Linked DNA regions of Homo sapiens: region 1 is linked to region 2. The links come from fine-mapping of genetic effects on gene expression. A gene starts in region 2. The other region holds a variant in brackets. All regions are shown on one strand. Distances are between the middles of the regions.

Region 1 (8,341 bases), 270 kb before region 2:
TATTGTATAAAGACGTTGTGTCACACTTTTTTAAATAGGATTCAATTTTCTTTATGCTACTTAATGAAAAAAAAATTTCCCTTAAAAGAGCACAAACTGGAATTTAAAACATTGTTGGAAATACTTCTGGGTTTTAGAAGAGCCTAATCTTTCCATAGACTGAAATAGAATTATCCTACACCTCCTTAAAATATCAACTATTACGACTCCAATTACAGTCATGCACTACGTAACAATCAATGACAGACTGCACATGGACAGGGGAGCCACCCTATACATATATATCATTTTTAATCTTTCATATCATATTTCACTGTATCTTTTCTACGTTGAGATATATTTAGATACACAAATATTTACCATTGTGTTACAGTTGCCTACAGTATTCAGTACAGTAATGTGCTGTCTAGGTTTGTAGCCTAGGAGCAATATGCTGTGCCATACAGCCTAGATGTGTAGTGAGCTACTCCATCTAGGTTTGTGTAAGTACACTCTATGATGTTTACAAAATGATAAAATTACCTAACAAGGCATTTCTCTGAAGATACCCCTGTTGTTAAGTGATGTTTGACTGTACTTTTAAAATCTTCACTATGGGTGTGAAGTAGAGATTTAAGGAATTAATTCTTTAAAAAACTGTTTTTTATTTTTTAGCTTTTTTGTAGAGATGGGATCTTGTTATGTTTCCCAGGCTGGTTTTGAACTCCTGGTCTCAAGCAATCCTTCCGCCTTGGCCTCCCAAATACTAGGCTTACAGAAGTGAGCCCACTGTGCCCAGCCTAATTCTTACAATTCTGGCAGAGAAATAGTCATTAAAGTTTACTGTACTTTGATATGGCATTCTTGGGCAATAGTTCAGTTCAAAAAACATTCCTTGGGTAGCCACGATGTCCCATGGCAAATTTAAAAATAAATAGTACCTGCCTTCAGAAATAAATTCTGTACTATTCCAGTGAAAATAAAATAAGTATGATGACATATATTATAAGAATTAGTAAGGCAATGCTATACCAAGGGATGGGGATGGACAATGGGAATGGTCCACCCCAGGTACAAGCGTCATCTGCAGAAAATGTAAAAACCTGACCACATCTTGGTTTACTTCTTATTATCACCATACAGTAGCAATTCTAAATGACAACTATACTGGGTTGAATAGTGTCCCCCTCAAAATGTGCATCCTTCCCCGGACTTTGGAATGTGGCCTTATTTGGAAAAAGGGTTGTTGCAAATGTAATTAGTTAAGATGGGGTCATACTGGCATAGACAGGGTCCTTAATCCAATGACTGGTGTCTCTATTTTTTAATGGTGTCTTATTTCTCCAAATGAAGAAGAGGAAAAGAAACAGAGATAGACACAGACAAGGAGAAAATGCCATGTGATGACAGGGACAGAGACTGGAATAAGACGTCTATAAGCCAAGAAATGTCAAAGATTGCCAGCAACCATCTGAAGCTAAGAGAGCAGCAGGGAACAGATTCTCCCTCAGTGCCTTCCAAAGGAGCCAACCCTGTCAACACCTTGATTTCAAACTTCTAGCCTCCAGAATTATGAGACAATGGAATTTCTATTGTTTTAAGCCATCCAGTTTGTTGGACTTTGTTATGGCAGCCCTAGGATATGAAGACAATGACCGTTCCCAACACCCCACCTTCTTGCTACATCACTGATAGTAAAAATGTAACGTGGTCATTATTAAAGTATAGATTGTAACTTATAGTTAGTAGACTAATAGTCTGGAAGTGGAGACAGACATGTAAATATGGATTTCAACACAGCGTGGTAAGTGCCATGATGGAGGTGTGCACAGGCCTCTGTGGGTCACAGAGAAGGTCAGGGTTCAAGTACAGCTGTCCAGAGCAGTGCAGACAGTGCACTCAGGAAAACACAAATGAGTCCAGTTTGGCTGGAACGGATCATTCTGTGAAGGAGAAGAAAAGAGTGGAAAGAAAGGTGAAGCTCTGCTCATTGAAGGACTCTGAAAAATGGACATTGATATGGTGCTTTAGACTCACTCATCAAAGTATAGTCTGTGGACCAGTAGATCTGGCATTACTGGAAGCTTGCTAGAAATGCAGATGCCACTCTGGGAAACACTGTGTAGTGCCCTACTCCTTCAAGTGTGGTCCTGCAACCAGCAGCAGCAGCAGCAGCTGGAGGCTTGTGAGAAAGCCAGCCCCACTCCAGACCTGCCAAATCAGAATCTGCACTGGGCAACAGGATGCCCAGATGATTTGCTTATACACCAAAGGTGAGAAGCACCGTTCCAGGGCATATTAGCCCTCTGCTGAGCCATAATGAGAGGAAGTAAGTGGGTGAGAAGTTAGCTGAGGTGGGAGGTCTCAGAAGGTGGTGATACACTACGGCATGAGGGAACAGTATGAGCAAAGACATCGAGGTATAAAACAGCAGCTCAGTTTTATTGTACCAGGTACTGTGCTACATGCTTTCTATGCACTCATCTTTTGATCTCCATAGTCACCCGGTGTTTTTATTCCAACAGATGGAGGGGCAGAAAGGTGGATAACTGCTGGGTGCAGTGACTCATGCCTGTAATCCCAGCACTTTGGGAAGCCAAGGCAGGTGGATCACTTGAGCTGAGGAGTTCAAGAACAGCCTGGGCAACATGGGGAAACCCCATCTCTCCAAAAAATACAAAAGTTACCCGGGTGTGGTGATGTGCACCTGTAGTTCCAGCTACTTAGGAGGCTGAGGTGGGAGGATCATTGAGCCTGGGAATTGGAGGCTGCAGTGAGCCATGATTGCACCACTGCACTCCAGCCTGGGTGACACAGTGAGACACTGAGAAAGAAAGAAAGAAAGAAAGAAAGAAAGAAGAAAGAAAGAAGGAAAGAAAGAAAGAAAGAAACAAAGAAAGAAAGAAAGAAAGAGAAAAAGAAAGAAAGAAAGAAAGAAGGAAAAGAAGGATGGGGGAGGGGGGAGGGATAGCATGGAGAGATATACCTAATGCTAGATGATGAGTTAGTGGGTGCAGCGCACCAGCATGGCACATGTATACGTATGTAACTAACCTGCACAATGTGCACATGTACCCTAAAACTTAAAGTATAATAATAAAAAAAAAAGAAAGAAAAGAAGGAAGGAAGGAAAGATGGAAAGGAACGAAAGATGGAAAGGAAGGAAAGATGGAAAGAAACGAAAGGAGAATGACCAGCCCAGTGTCACTGGACACGAGGTGGGGATGTAAACTCAGGATTCCTCAACATCCTTCAAATACCCCAAGCCTTCATGCCTTGTGTAGCAGATTCCCTCTACAAGGAATTGCCTTCTTTATCTGTTAAATCTCATTCATTTTTCCAGATCCAGCTCCAAAAGTCACCTCCTGTGTGACCTCCTTCCCAGTTTCTCCCGTCGTTAGTTACATACTCTGTGATGATCCTGAACATCTCTTTCATACCACAATGATAGAATTTGTCATGGTCTGGCTTATTTGGTGCTCCCTCTGCTCTGTTCAACCCCAAATAGAAGGTGATGTTTTTGGAAGTGGAGGAGGCATGTCTCATTCATCTCAGTCTCCCTAGTGCCTAGTTTGGTGCTTCATGCCTAGTAAACACGAATATGGGTTTATTAAAGGTGGACGTGGGTGCCAACTCTGGCTGCATTCCTTACCAGCTATATGACCTTGAGCACATTCCTTAACCTTTCGAGCTTCAGTATTTGCATCTATGAAATGGTGATCATGAAACCTACTCATAAGGTTGATATGAGATATGTAAAAACGCCATGCACACTGCAGGGCACAGAGGAAGTGTGTGATAAATATCTTTTAAGGGATAGAATAAATGAGTAAGCTGACCTGGTGTAAAAGCAGATGGTAATAATAAACTACTACCTATAGAGTCTGTACCAGGCACTATTTAGGGTAAATTATGTACATTACCTCCCCATCCTTCAAATGCCACCTATTGTTATCATTATCATCATTTTATTTTAATAAGTAATTAAACTGAGTCCTATATAGGTTAAGAAGTTTCCTTAAGGTCAAAGAGAGAACCAGACTGGGACTCTGATCCAAGTGGGTCCAAAGTCTAAGCTGCTAGAAAAAAAAAAAAAAAACCCAAAAGGCTTGACAAAAGAACCTCCCCATTGATATAGTGGCCCATCCAAAGATCACACCACTGTACCTTTAACCTCCAGAGATAGAACTGTTTTATCAAATTTTTACCAAAACCTCGAAAAAATCTGAACACTTTTTAAATTAGATTCCTCAATACTAGAAAAATACAGCTGTTAGCAGTCACATGAGACCTGGCTGTTCTTCATGAAATACAAGCTGTGTTAATGGGAGGTATGTTAAAGCTGTTTGTTGCTGTACAGCACTGTGTGTATAACTAAAACAGTCAGGAGCTAGCTTCCCACGTTCAATGAAATGTTTACAGACAGACAAGTTAATAGGCATAAAAGCTATATCCAAAGCATGAGTGATATTCTTTTGA[T/C]GTCAGCTCCATGGAATCCTTCCTGTTACAGTAGTAAGAATTTTTTTAAGGAGATTATATTATAGAATCAGAAAGTGCTTTTCTTTACTGTATGCCATTCCTGTTTCTCAGTTATAAGGGAAATGAATTTAGAAGTTTAAAAAAATCAAATTATTTATCTTAGTGTTCCCTGAAGTTTGCAAACTGCTGAGCAATGTGGTGCTTTGCCCTACATTCTCCTCATTGAGTCTATCTGGGTAAATTAATTACAAGACAATTCTTAGGAATTAAGTGTATTTTAAGTTCAGAGGCATCTGCTTAGAGACTTCTAATACCGCTAAATAGTCCCTTTGGAAATGCACTCGTTAGTATGAGTGGTATAATTTTCATTTCCGCTGGCACCATGGCGTATGACTTCTTCAGTTTCAGCTACCCTCTGATTGACCTGCCAAGGGCATAAACCACTCTGAAGATGTTCCAGCACCATTTGTGCTTCTCCAGTAGGTATAAGAAACTGGATTGATTTGCTCTACATCAAGGAATAATTTAAAAGATAATTTTTCCTGGTTTTAATGTGGTACATTCTCTGTGTAAACACACACACACACACACACACACACACACACACACACACTAGCCTGAACTTATAATAAGCTTATTGGGCAATAGAACAAAACAAATAAACATTTTCTTAGATAACAGATATTATATATGTCCTAAGGACATGAATTAGGAAAAAATCCATGGTGTGATTAATCCATTATGTAAAATGAAAATGCATTTTTAAGTCGAATGCCAATAAGATGTTGGCAGGGAATGGAAGGGGGGGTACTTGGAACACAGAGAACTGAAATTTACATTTGGGATTCTTTCCTCCCCTCTGAAATGAGAATGTGGTGAGTTTTATCACTTGATTCTTGTGAATCTGCTGTGTTCTGGTTTGGAAGAATTCTGAATCAGGGTGATTTTAGGACAGCTGCTGTTTCCCAGGCTCAAAACAAATAGAAGCAGAGTGTGGCCAGCTCTCCATAATTCCCTCAGTTATCCTCGGCATGGCTCTGCAGGGGCATCCCTAGAAAGACACAGGAGAGCCACTCACCATTCAGCCACCCTGTCGACAGATCTAATTTGGAAAGATCAGGTGTAGAGAAAAGAAAACAGTTCTTCGAATAAAACAGAGGCCAAAAAAAAAAAAATGCATAAAATAATCAGAATTTTTAGATATACACAGAGCTGGCATTCAGTTACCTCCAGAAGCACAGTTGACCCTGTGGAATGTCATCAGGTCAATCACTTTCTGATAATGATAGTAAATGGACATTTATACAGAGCTTTAGTGTTTATAAAACATGTCTATATATGGTGTATATCATTTGGACCCAATAACAATCCCATGATGAAGGTTATTATTAGAACTATTAAGAACACAGTCTTTGGAGTCCTGAAAATTAGGTTAAAATCCTAGCCCTCAATGTACTAACTGGACCACCTTGGGAACTTACTTACCTTCTCTGATGCTGTAATAGGAATAAATGAGATCACATGGGGAAAACATTTTCCCAGTGCTTGACACTTGGTATGCTCACAATAACTGGTAGTAGTTGTTGTTGTTATTATCTACTATATTGTGTTGCCTGCTTCAGTGATTTCAAAAGCTCATTCTTTTCCAATCCAAAAATATATTTCTCAAAATGTGGCTTGGAAACCAGTTTCTGAACCTTCTTAAGCAAACATATGTATACGTTGAATGAATGAATGAATGAATGAATGGAAAGAATTCTAGCTCAGGATCAACCAGAAAAAGTATAATGCATTGGGAAGTATTCTATTCATTCAGCAAACATTTATGTCTGAACTTAGTATGGACCAGGAACTATCATAGGCCAGCACACTTAATCTTCTTAGCAATTCTATGAATTAGACATTGTCTTCTTTCACAGATTACAAAAACAATTAGTCCAATAACTTACTTAACTTGCATAGAGACACACAGCCACTACATGACAAAGCCTGGGGTTGAAACCGGGTCTTTGGATTCTTGGTCCAGTGCTTATTCTCAGCACCTTGGCCTCTTGATCCATCGCAAGGATGACACATCCTGTTCATTTCCACATGAGCAGCCTCCACATTGAGACACGATTTTTTTCTAAGCCTAATTCACTTGGCTATTCAGCATGACTCTTGGGTATATAAAGCTATGTCATATCTGATAACATAGTAAAAATGTTGATACAATTAATAAACCTTTATCTACAATATAGTGCAAATCATGGCATACAGAAAAAAATAAAGAGCTGACATGAACTCCCTCCATGATCCCCATTCTCATGCTTTCATACCAGCCACTCCCCACACCTTGCTTACTGATTTAGAGGAAAAGGAGGAAAGAAGATTGACAAGAAAAAAGCTTAGAAAAGGAAATAGCTAACACCCATTCAGAACTGAGAACAGGTAATTAAAGCCTTCAAGAAAAGAATGGAACCACTGCTCACCAACTCCAGCTCTGAGTAAGACATATTCTCTCGTTGGCCATCTTATGGAACCTTCTACAACCTCATGGGCAAAGTGGGCTGCGGCAGTGGGCAATGTATTAAACAACTAATTAAGGTACAGTTGTTTTATAGTTGCTTTAGCCATTGCCTCCCAGTCACTTGCTTTACCTGTGTTAATTCATTCTTTCATTGCATCAATATATTTATGGAGCATCTTCTCCATATCTGGCATATAGTAAAAGTTAATAAATGTTTGCCAAATGCATTTAATTCTTCCCATTGCAGTGAGCCAGATAAACCAGTCTCTACCCCCAAGGGACTGACAGTCTACTTTGGATAACAAGTATCAAACAAATAATTACACTAATAATTACTTTCAATTGTATTAAGTGCTTCAAAAAAGAAGCACAGTATGTTAAGAGAGCAAATAATACATGACATTATTCTAGACAGGGCATAAAGGAAGACTTCCATGAGCAGGTGACATTTAAGCAAAGGAAGGGCACCAGCTTTAAGCAGAGAGTAGGGGCCAGGTCATTCCAGGCATAGGAGCAGCAAACCCTATCATGGCCTGCAAGGCTCTGTGACTTGGTCCTAGCTTCCTTGTGACCTCATCTCTTACCAGTCTCCCTTCAGTCACTCTTCTCAGTTCCACTAGTATTCTATTTTTAAAATACGTCAAATTTGTTCCTATCTTATGAGGCTTTTGCATTTGTTATTCCCTCTGCTTGGAATGCTGTTATCCCAGCTCTTTACGTAACTGGTTCCATCATCTAGATCTCAGTTTGACATGTCCTGCTCCTAGAAGCCTACCCCATCCACCATATTGGATGCAGCCCCACTCCTACTCCACCAGTCACCATCTACCATATCTCAATGTACTGGTTAACTCAGAGCATTTCTCAGTGCCTGATGACTTGCTTACTTGTTTATGTTTCTTTTTGCCAACTAGAAAATAAGTTCCATGAGAATCAGAATCTTGTGTGCCTGACACAAAGTAATCAAGCAATAAAAATTGAATAAATGAATAAAGATTAGCATTTATGAAGACTCTATGTTGGAAAGGGATGTGACATCTTCTGGGACAGAAAGGTCAATGTGGTTAGGATATAGTTTAATGTTTAATTCAATAGTAATTGTTTTTCAAATGTATACGTCTGTGTGTACAACATATATGTAGATAATTGCTCCTCAACCATATTTTAATCAGCTTGACAGTAATCACAGGTGTCTTCTTAGACATCGTACATGTCTTGCATATTGTAGCCACTCAACAAACTTTTTTTTATTATACTTTAAGTTCTAGGGTACATGTTCACAGCGTGCAGGTTTGTTACATATGTATACATGTGCCATGTGCCACTCAACAAACTTTTGACTAATTGGAAAAATAATTCTAGTCTGTTAAGGCA
Region 2 (8,341 bases):
CTTTCTTCTGTGCGCATGCATATCTGTGTTCAAATTTCCATTCTTGCAAGGATCCAGGCATGTTGGGCTAGGGCCCATCCTAATGTCCTCACTTAATATTAATTACCTCTTTAAAATCCCTATTTCCAAATATAGTCACATTCTAAGGCACTGGGGATTAGGACTTCAACATATGAATTTTGAGGGCTACAATTCAGGCCAAAACAAGTTATATGCAATTTGTACCATGAGATTATCTTTACTCTACATACATGAAATGGCCACCAGAGGTTGCTCCTTTTGCAAAAGACATGGCAGAAAGACAAGTAAGTAAGGGGATTTGAACTCTGATTTTTTGGCTGGTGAGAAATAAAATTGTTAGTTGGGCTCTTGCCCATTTCTAGTTTCATCCCAACTTTTCTGTAGTGGATTACAGATGGCCGGAAATTCTTTCCTACCTTCCCACTGAGAGGCAGAATCTATTTCCACTCTCCTTGTATCATGGCTAGGTTGCTGTGTGACTTGTAAGGCTGGGGTGTAAGAGATCTGCAACTTTTGCCTTTGCCGCTTGGAATGCTCTCTCTGGGAAGTGAGCTGCCGTGTAAAAAGTTTGCGAAACTTTCTGAAGAGAGAAGCCCTGTGGAGAGAGGGCTGAAGCTGTTCACGGATGTTTCAGCCTGAGCTGATCTCCCAGCTGAATGCAGCCTCATGAGTGACCTCAGACAATCCCAGTGGAACAGATGAACCACCTACCTGAACCCTGCCTAGATTCTTGATCCATAGAAACATGAGCAAATAAAATCATTGCTATATAAGCCGCTAAATTTTGGAGTAATTTGTTACACAGCAGTAGATAATTGAAGCCATCACCTATTAGTCAAACTGACTTTAGAGATTAATAGTATTCATTTCATATTCTTTCCCATCTGCCTTTAAAATGCACCAACTTTTTTTTTCTTTTTTTTTCCCAATGGAGTCTCGCTCTGTCGCCCAGGCTGGAGTGCAGTGGTGCGATCTCGGCTCACTGCAAGCTCCGCCTCCCGGGTTCACACCATTCTCCTGCCTCAGCCTCTCGAGTAGCTGAGACTACAGGCACCCACCACCACGCCCGGCTAATTTTTTTTGTATTTTTAGAAGCGATGGGGTTTCACCGTATCTCCTGACCTTGTGATGTGCCTGCCTCGGCCTCCCAAAGTGCTGGGATTGCAGCCGTGAGCCAGCGGGCCTGGGCAACAACAACTTTTTTTTTTTTTTTTGAGACGGAGTCTTGCTGTGTTGCCCAGGCTGGAGTGCAGTGGCGCGATCTCGGTTCACTGCAAGCTCCTCCTCCCGGGTTCACGCCATTCTCCTGCCTCAGCCTCCCGAGTAGTTGGGACTACAGGCGCCCACCACCATGCCCGGCTAATTTTTTTTTTGTATTTTTAGTACAGACGGGGTTTCACTGTGTTAACCGGGATGGTCTCGATCTCCTGACCTCGTGATCCACCCGCCTTGGCCTCCCAAAGTGCTGGGATTACAGACGTGAGCCATTGCGCCCAGCCAACAACTTTTAAGATGGATTATACATTAGTGTAATTTGATTTCAGATAATTTTTTTTTATTTTTTTGAGACAGGGTTGTGCTCTGTCACTCAGGCTAGAGTGCATTGGTGCAATCATGGTTCACTGCAGCCTCAACCTCCCTGGGCTCAAGTGATCCTCCCATCTCAACCTCCTGAGTAGCTGGGACTACATAAGCACACCACCACACCTGGCTAATTTTTATATACTTTTTGTAGAGACAGGGTTTCGCCATGTTGCTCAGTCTGGTCTTCAACTCCTGGGCTCAAAGGATCTGCCTGCCTCAGCCTCCCAAAGTGCTGGGATTACAGCTGTGAGATACTGTGTCTGGTCGTGGTTTCAGAGAAAATTTTCAGATAAGAACAGTAGGCTTCTGGTGGGGATGCAAATATATATATGTATGGGCTGCTATATGGTAGGAGGAAGAAGACACTTCAAAGAAAGGCTATGAAAAAGTGAGCACATGTTAAAGACAAATGATAATAGCTATTATTTATTGATTGCATACTATATGCCAGGCAGTATATTCAAGTTTTATATGCATGATTTCATTTTACTCTCATTAAAATTCAAAGAAGATGACATTATTATTAATTCTTTTTTTTTTGTAGGTGAAGTAATTATGCCAGAGACATTAGGAGACTTTACCAAGTTCACACAGCTAGAAAGTAGAAGAACTAAGATTTAAATCCAAACCTGTTTGTTTTCAGAGTCAGAGACTAGTTCTTAATCACCTTTCTACACTGCCTCTAAACTTGATCTGCTTTACAATTTTGCTATGGCTTATCCTTTTTGCTTATAGTAAATGCTATCATTCAAAATGCATTTTCTGAACATCTGTTATGTAAAGGCACTGGATATTCACATGTGAAAGATGATACCTATTGAAGGTAAAGAGCAGGAGAAGGTATATAGATGGCAGTGGTGAGACAATTCAGCTATGAGTTAGTGACTGTGATGTCTCTTCCGCTATTTATTCATGAACATTTTGAGCATTAACTTTTTGTTAAATACTGGGTCAGAAGCTGTTGGGTTGAGAAACAGGAAGGAGAGATTGATACCAACTTCCATCACTTTAAGATGTATACTTTTTACATATTAATATTTCTGAAATTATATGTTTTACAGTAATTACTAGCTTAAATGGTAGCATTGTTTTCTTCCTCAGTGGTACATAAAATAATGGTGCTTTTTACAAGTGGTGGAACTTTAGATTCAATAAAGTATGATTTTTGGTCTGCCAAACATGGTTCTTGTTCACCAGATGCTTAATATTTATGATCCTGCAATGTAATGGATTTCTCCCTACATTTGTAACCATGTAACATCCTTCACCAATGTGCCTTTCTCCTTTTGGCCTGAGATAATGCATTTATTCAAGTATGGTTGTTTATTTTCTCTCTATACTGTCTCCATCATTATTCAGCAAATGAAACACTTTCATCTCTCTATCTTCACCCCAATTTCTTTCCTGGGCTCTGATTCATAACTGACACCTGAGTATTACAACTTTCTTGTCTTTATGTTACCGTGAACTCAATACAATGAACCATCTTTCCCTCCAAGCCAGATTATTCTCCAGGCTTCCCAAGATCTATCAGTTCTTGGGAACTGTAATGCACACTTGAAACCTTGGGAGCCATCCTTGATTCTTCCCTCTCCTTTGTTTCACTTGTACATATCTAGTATGCTATTAAGACCTGTACACGAGGCCAGGTGCAGCAGCTCACGCCTGTAATCCCAGCACTTTGGGAGGCCGAGGCAGGCAGATCACCTGAGGTCAGGAGTTCGAGACTAGCCTGACCAACACAGAGAAACCCTATGTCTACTAAACATACAAAATTAGCCAGGTGTGGTGGTGCATGCCTGTAATCCCAGCTACTCGGGAGGCTGAGGCAGGAGAATTGCTTGAACCCGGGAGGTGGAGGTTGTGGTGAGCCGAGATCGTGCCATTGCTCCCCAGCCTGGGCAACAAGAGAACAAGAGCGAAACTGCGTCTCAGAAAAAAAAAAAAAAGACCTGTACATGTTTCTTCTTGCATTGATCTCTCCCTTTGCAGTTCCACTATTGCCATCTCAGTCCAAGCCCTTGTCTAATCATGCGTGGACTGCTATAGTCTCCCTCTGATTCATCTGATCCATTTTCACCACTTTAAGTTTTCTCTAACACTGTAACTGTACTGTATACTTGACTCCCTGCTAAAAGTCATTTAATAGCCCCTTACTGATCACTGGATACATTCCAGACACCATAGCCTGGTATTCAAGGCTCTCTACAATTACCAGTCCTTTCCAGCTTCATCACCCACCACCTAAACTAGAGGAAATGTTCTACACTTTTCAGCTGCCACAATATTTGGCTTGAACCATTTCCTTTGTCTAGATTCTTACTCTCATTCTCTGGGCTTATCCAGCCAGGCTTTCCTTCAAAGCTCAGCTGACTCCTCCAGGAAAAGCATTTCCTGATGGTTTGCAGTTTACAGTGAACCCTCTTCTCCTAACTCCTACAGTGCTTAGTGCATATGTAAGTAATGTAACATTTAGTATGTGTTTCCTTCTATAGCTTTTTATCCTTTTATGCATAAAAATGTCTTTCCAATGAGAATTAAATGCCTTGAGGGCAGGGACCTGCCATATTTCTCCATATTCCCAGTGCTGATGGTCTTTTAGATATAATCATATTTTAGACCTGGAAGTTCACCTAGCCCTACTGATTTCTTTCACAGTTGAAGAAACTGAGGCCCAGAGAGAAGTTATTCAGACTCAGTAGAAAGCCATAGTCCTAGCCAAATATTTGCTAACACTTACAAATTATAGGGGTTGGCTTACGTAGAATGGCAAGATTCAGAAGTGGGGAATGAGGGCACTCTCTGAACAAAGGAAGGCAAGTAAAAATCATCACAGCCGTCCATGCGTGATTGGACAGAAGCCTAGACTGAGATGGAAATAGTGGAACTGGAAAGGAAGGGATCAATGCAAAAGGAAAAGTGTGCAGGTCTTACTAACTTACTAGATAGGTATTTTTGGCAAGTTTGGGACCAGGTGATTCAAGCTGCCCGCTGGGGCACGTGTAGTGGCTACTCGAGGGCAGGGCTGTCCTTTTGCACAACGCACAGGCTCTCGCAAATGGTTGGATGTTCAATGTTTCTTACTTTAGGGGGCTGCCCAGTCTTCTTCTTCGCAGGCATGTGGCTAGAAGAAAGTGAAGCAGGTTGGCTTTCTGGCTCCTCGAGGGCACAGGCCCAGAGGTGGTGAGGACCGGCCAAGGCTCTCTGCTCAGTGCAGCAAGCCAGGGCCCGCCCCTGACAGGAATCCGTTGGCTAAGCAGCCGCTCCGGCCTTGGCCACGATCCCAGGAAAGAAGAGCAAGGGGCTTTCCACCTGCCCCTAGCCTAACCCGGGGCTGGGGACCTCTCGGGTTCCATCGGCTCTTGCCCCGCCTCCTAAGCCGGCCGCCTCCTGTCCAGGCCAGGTTGCCCGCCCCTCCCCTCACGCTCGACGGGCTCGCTCCCGCACCGGGCGCGCGGGTGGTGCGCGGGCACACGGAGGCGGAAGGCCGGAGGGGCAGTCCGCCGCGGGGGCGAGCGCGCATGCGCCTTCCTGGGACCCACGGCAGGCGCGAATCCCAGCGGCCGGCGGGCGGCGGGGTAAGAGCATGGGATCCCGGAGGTTCCGGACCCCAGGCCAGTGTGGGGAGGTGCCGGGGGCTCGGACGCGCCACGAGCCGGCGCAGAGCTGGCGACCCGTCTCCCAGCTCCGCTCCACTCCCAGGGACGCGACGCGAGGCCTCCCCAGCCCTTCCTGCAGGGTCGCTTGTGGGTCGGGTGAGGGGACGCGGTGATAGTGGTGGCACTTGCAGGCTGGGGCGGTCCTGGCACCCTTGTCCTTGCGGTTCTGAGGGCCTGGCCCTCAAGAGGAGGGGCGGAGAAACGCGAGAAGGGATCCCTTTCGCCCCATATACACGCCCGGGATAGCTGCACTCCCCGGTGTTGTGTCCACTGCGGTGGAAGGACCTTTCAGACTAAAAGGAGCAAAGTCGGTTCTGGGATGGGGACGGCGGGCTTGGCATTTGTCGAGATGCACCGTCAGGGCAAAGGAGGACGAAAAGCGCATCTACTGCCTGCCTAGCAACTTCGTGGCCAGTGGATGGGTTAGAAAATTACTGTTTTCTGATTTACAGGTGGAAAAAGTCGCAAATAACCCTTTTTCTGGTTTAAGCAGAAGAGAGTCGTTAAAAGCCTCGCATAATATCTTTAACCACACAGGGCTCAGTAAAATTAGGGTACCTCCCCGCTTCGTACACACAGACGCACACAGCTCCATTCAGCAAATACTTCTTGGGTACCTGCCTTCTGCTAACACTGTTCTACAAGTGGGGAACAGAGAGCAACGACTAAGACAGGAGGATCCCTGCTCACAGGGAGCCTTTAGTCAACACATCCAAGTAATTTCCTTTTACACTTTTTTTTTTTTTAATTGAGACAGAGTCTTGCTCTGTCGCCCAGGCTGGAGTGCAGTGGCACGATCTTGGCTCACTGCAACCTCTGCCTCCCGGGTTCGAGCGATTTTCCTGCCTCAGCCTCACGAGTAGCTGGGATTACAGGAACGCACCACCACGCCCAGCTAATTTTTGTATTTTTAGTAGAGATGGGGTTTCACCATGTTGACCAGGCTGGTCTCGAACTCCTGACCTCAGGTGATCCACCTGCCTCGGCCTCCCAAAGTGCTGGGATTACAGGGGTGAACCACTGCGCCCAGCCCCTTTTATGCTTTTTAAATTGGAATATACCATATAGAAAAATACTGTACGCAAATTATAAGTTGTAACTTGTTAATTTATCCTAAAGTCAACACATTTCCTAACCACTACTCAAATCAAGAAGGAAGATTCACAGCATTTCAGAACACCTCTCTGGGCACCCCTCCCAACCACCATCCCTTCTTTCCTCCCCAAAGGTAACCTCTTTCCTGATTTTTAACACCATAGATTAGTTTTGCCTATTTATGAACCTTTCATGGAACCATATGATATGTATTCTTTGGTGTCCAGCATTTATACTGAAAATTATGTGTGTGAGATTGCACCATGTCATGTGAAAATACAAATCCTGTTAGTGAAAAGAATTAGGAAGCAAATTGAAGGTAATGATACAAACAGTAAGGGGAGGAAGCTTTAGTAGGATAGTCAGGGATGATCTTTCTGAGGGGATGATTTGAGATTTGGCATCAATGACAAAAGATTAGCCATTCCAATCAGTTCTGGAGTTATCCCGTGATGTTTTTATTTTAAATAAGAAAATAATTAGGGCCGGGTGCAGTGGCTCACGCCTGTAATCCCAGCACTTTGGGAGACCAAGGAGGGTGGATCACCTGAGGTCAGGAGTTCAAGATCAGCCTGGCCAATCTGGTGAAACCCCGTCTCTACTAACAATACAAAAATTAGCCAGGCGTGGTGGTGGGTGCCTGTAATCCCAACTACCTGGGAGGCTGAGGGAAGACAATCGCTTGAACCCAGGAGGCAGAGGTTGCGGTGAGCCGATATTGTGCCATTGTACTCCAGCCTGGGCAACAAGAGCAAAGCTCCATCTCAAAAAAAAAGAAAAAAAAACAAATAAAATAAAATAATTTTAGATCATTAGGTGGAATGTACCAATTTTGCCCTAAATTTTTTAGTTGATTTATTATATTTTCTGAATATATTTAAAGTGTATCCTGTGGTTAAAATGGTCCAACATTTTTCAAAGAGAAGAGGAAAATGTCAATTTTGTCGATTTGCTTTTTATTTTTTTTTGTTTGAGATGGAGTTTCGCTCTTGTTGCCCAGGCTGGAGTGCAATGGTGCGATCTCGGCTCACTGCAACCTTCACCTCCTGGGTTGAAGCGATTCTCCTGCCTCAGCCTTCCAAATAGCTGGGATCACAGGCGAGCGCCACCATACCTGGCTAATTTTGTATTTTTAGTAGAGATGGGGTTTCACCATGTTGGTCAGGCTGGTCTTGAACTCCTGACCTCAGGTGATCTGCCCACCTCGGCTTCCCAAAGTGCTGGGATTACAGGCGTGAGCCACCGCAACCGGCATCAATTTGCTTCTTACTTTAAAACCCCAACCTAAGGAAAACTGTAAAAAAAAAAAAAAAGTAAGTGGTTAATTGAGTTTTACTGCTTTTGTATTTTTTTCTCACGATTTGGGATTATTCTTAATGATTCTTAAAAAGGCTCATTTCTCTAAGATGGAAAGTTGGTGTGGTTAATGCAAGTATATTTTGGAAGAAAAGTAAAAACCAAACTAGATAAATTGTTTATTGGAAGACTTTCCCAAACTAAATACAAAGACAAGATTCCTCTTTCTCGCTGTACCAAAGATAAATCATGCCTTTGTCTACGGTTGTGGTTTTATATTTACCTGTAGGTGAATGTGTTCTAAATAGAATTGACTGTGTCATTATCTACATATGTGTTGTTTTTCTTTTCTCAGAAATATTCCCTTGTGAGAGTAAATCTTTACTATATCTTTAGATGTATTGAGTCCCATTTAATAGGGAGATCCACCTTTTGATGTATATTCCCAACTAAAGGACTAGGGAATAAGGAACTTAAAATACCACGTTTCCTTCACATTCCTTCCCACTACCCCTCCCCTCGAATTCTCTATCCTTCTACTTGGTTTACTGGGTTCATTGTTGTAGGTACTGTACTCAGCTGAATCTTGATATCTTTTTTTTTCCCCTTAGGATACTTCTACATAGACATAATCAAGTTTTGACTATTTGGAAACCAAGCATCATTAAAATTCTCTCAAACTCCTA

Which allele goes with the higher level. Alleles are on the strand shown, and positions count from the first base shown. SD is a standard deviation of normalised expression in the study named.
In carriers of allele T in region 1, the expression in skeletal muscle of the gene that starts at base 5,123 in region 2 tends to be lower than with C alone (large effect, 1.3 SD a copy in FUSION).

Evidence for each region.
Region 1: its variant is fine-mapped to the expression of ALG6 in skeletal muscle (FUSION, PIP 0.95).

Annotation. Positions count from the first base shown.
Region 1 is chr1:63,095,024-63,103,364 of GRCh38, forward strand. No RefSeq gene overlaps it. Among named protein-coding and RNA genes, the nearest start is that of LINC01739, 87 kb to the left of the region's middle. The variant T/C (reference allele first, on the strand shown) is at 4,459.
Region 2 is chr1:63,362,505-63,370,845 of GRCh38, forward strand. It overlaps ALG6 (ALG6 alpha-1,3-glucosyltransferase), which reads left to right and starts at 5,123. Exons shown (of 15, transcript NM_013339.4): 1 at 5,123-5,183; 2 at 8,267-8,341. RefSeq lists enhancers at 4,583-4,722, 5,583-5,692 and a silencer at 4,923-5,402.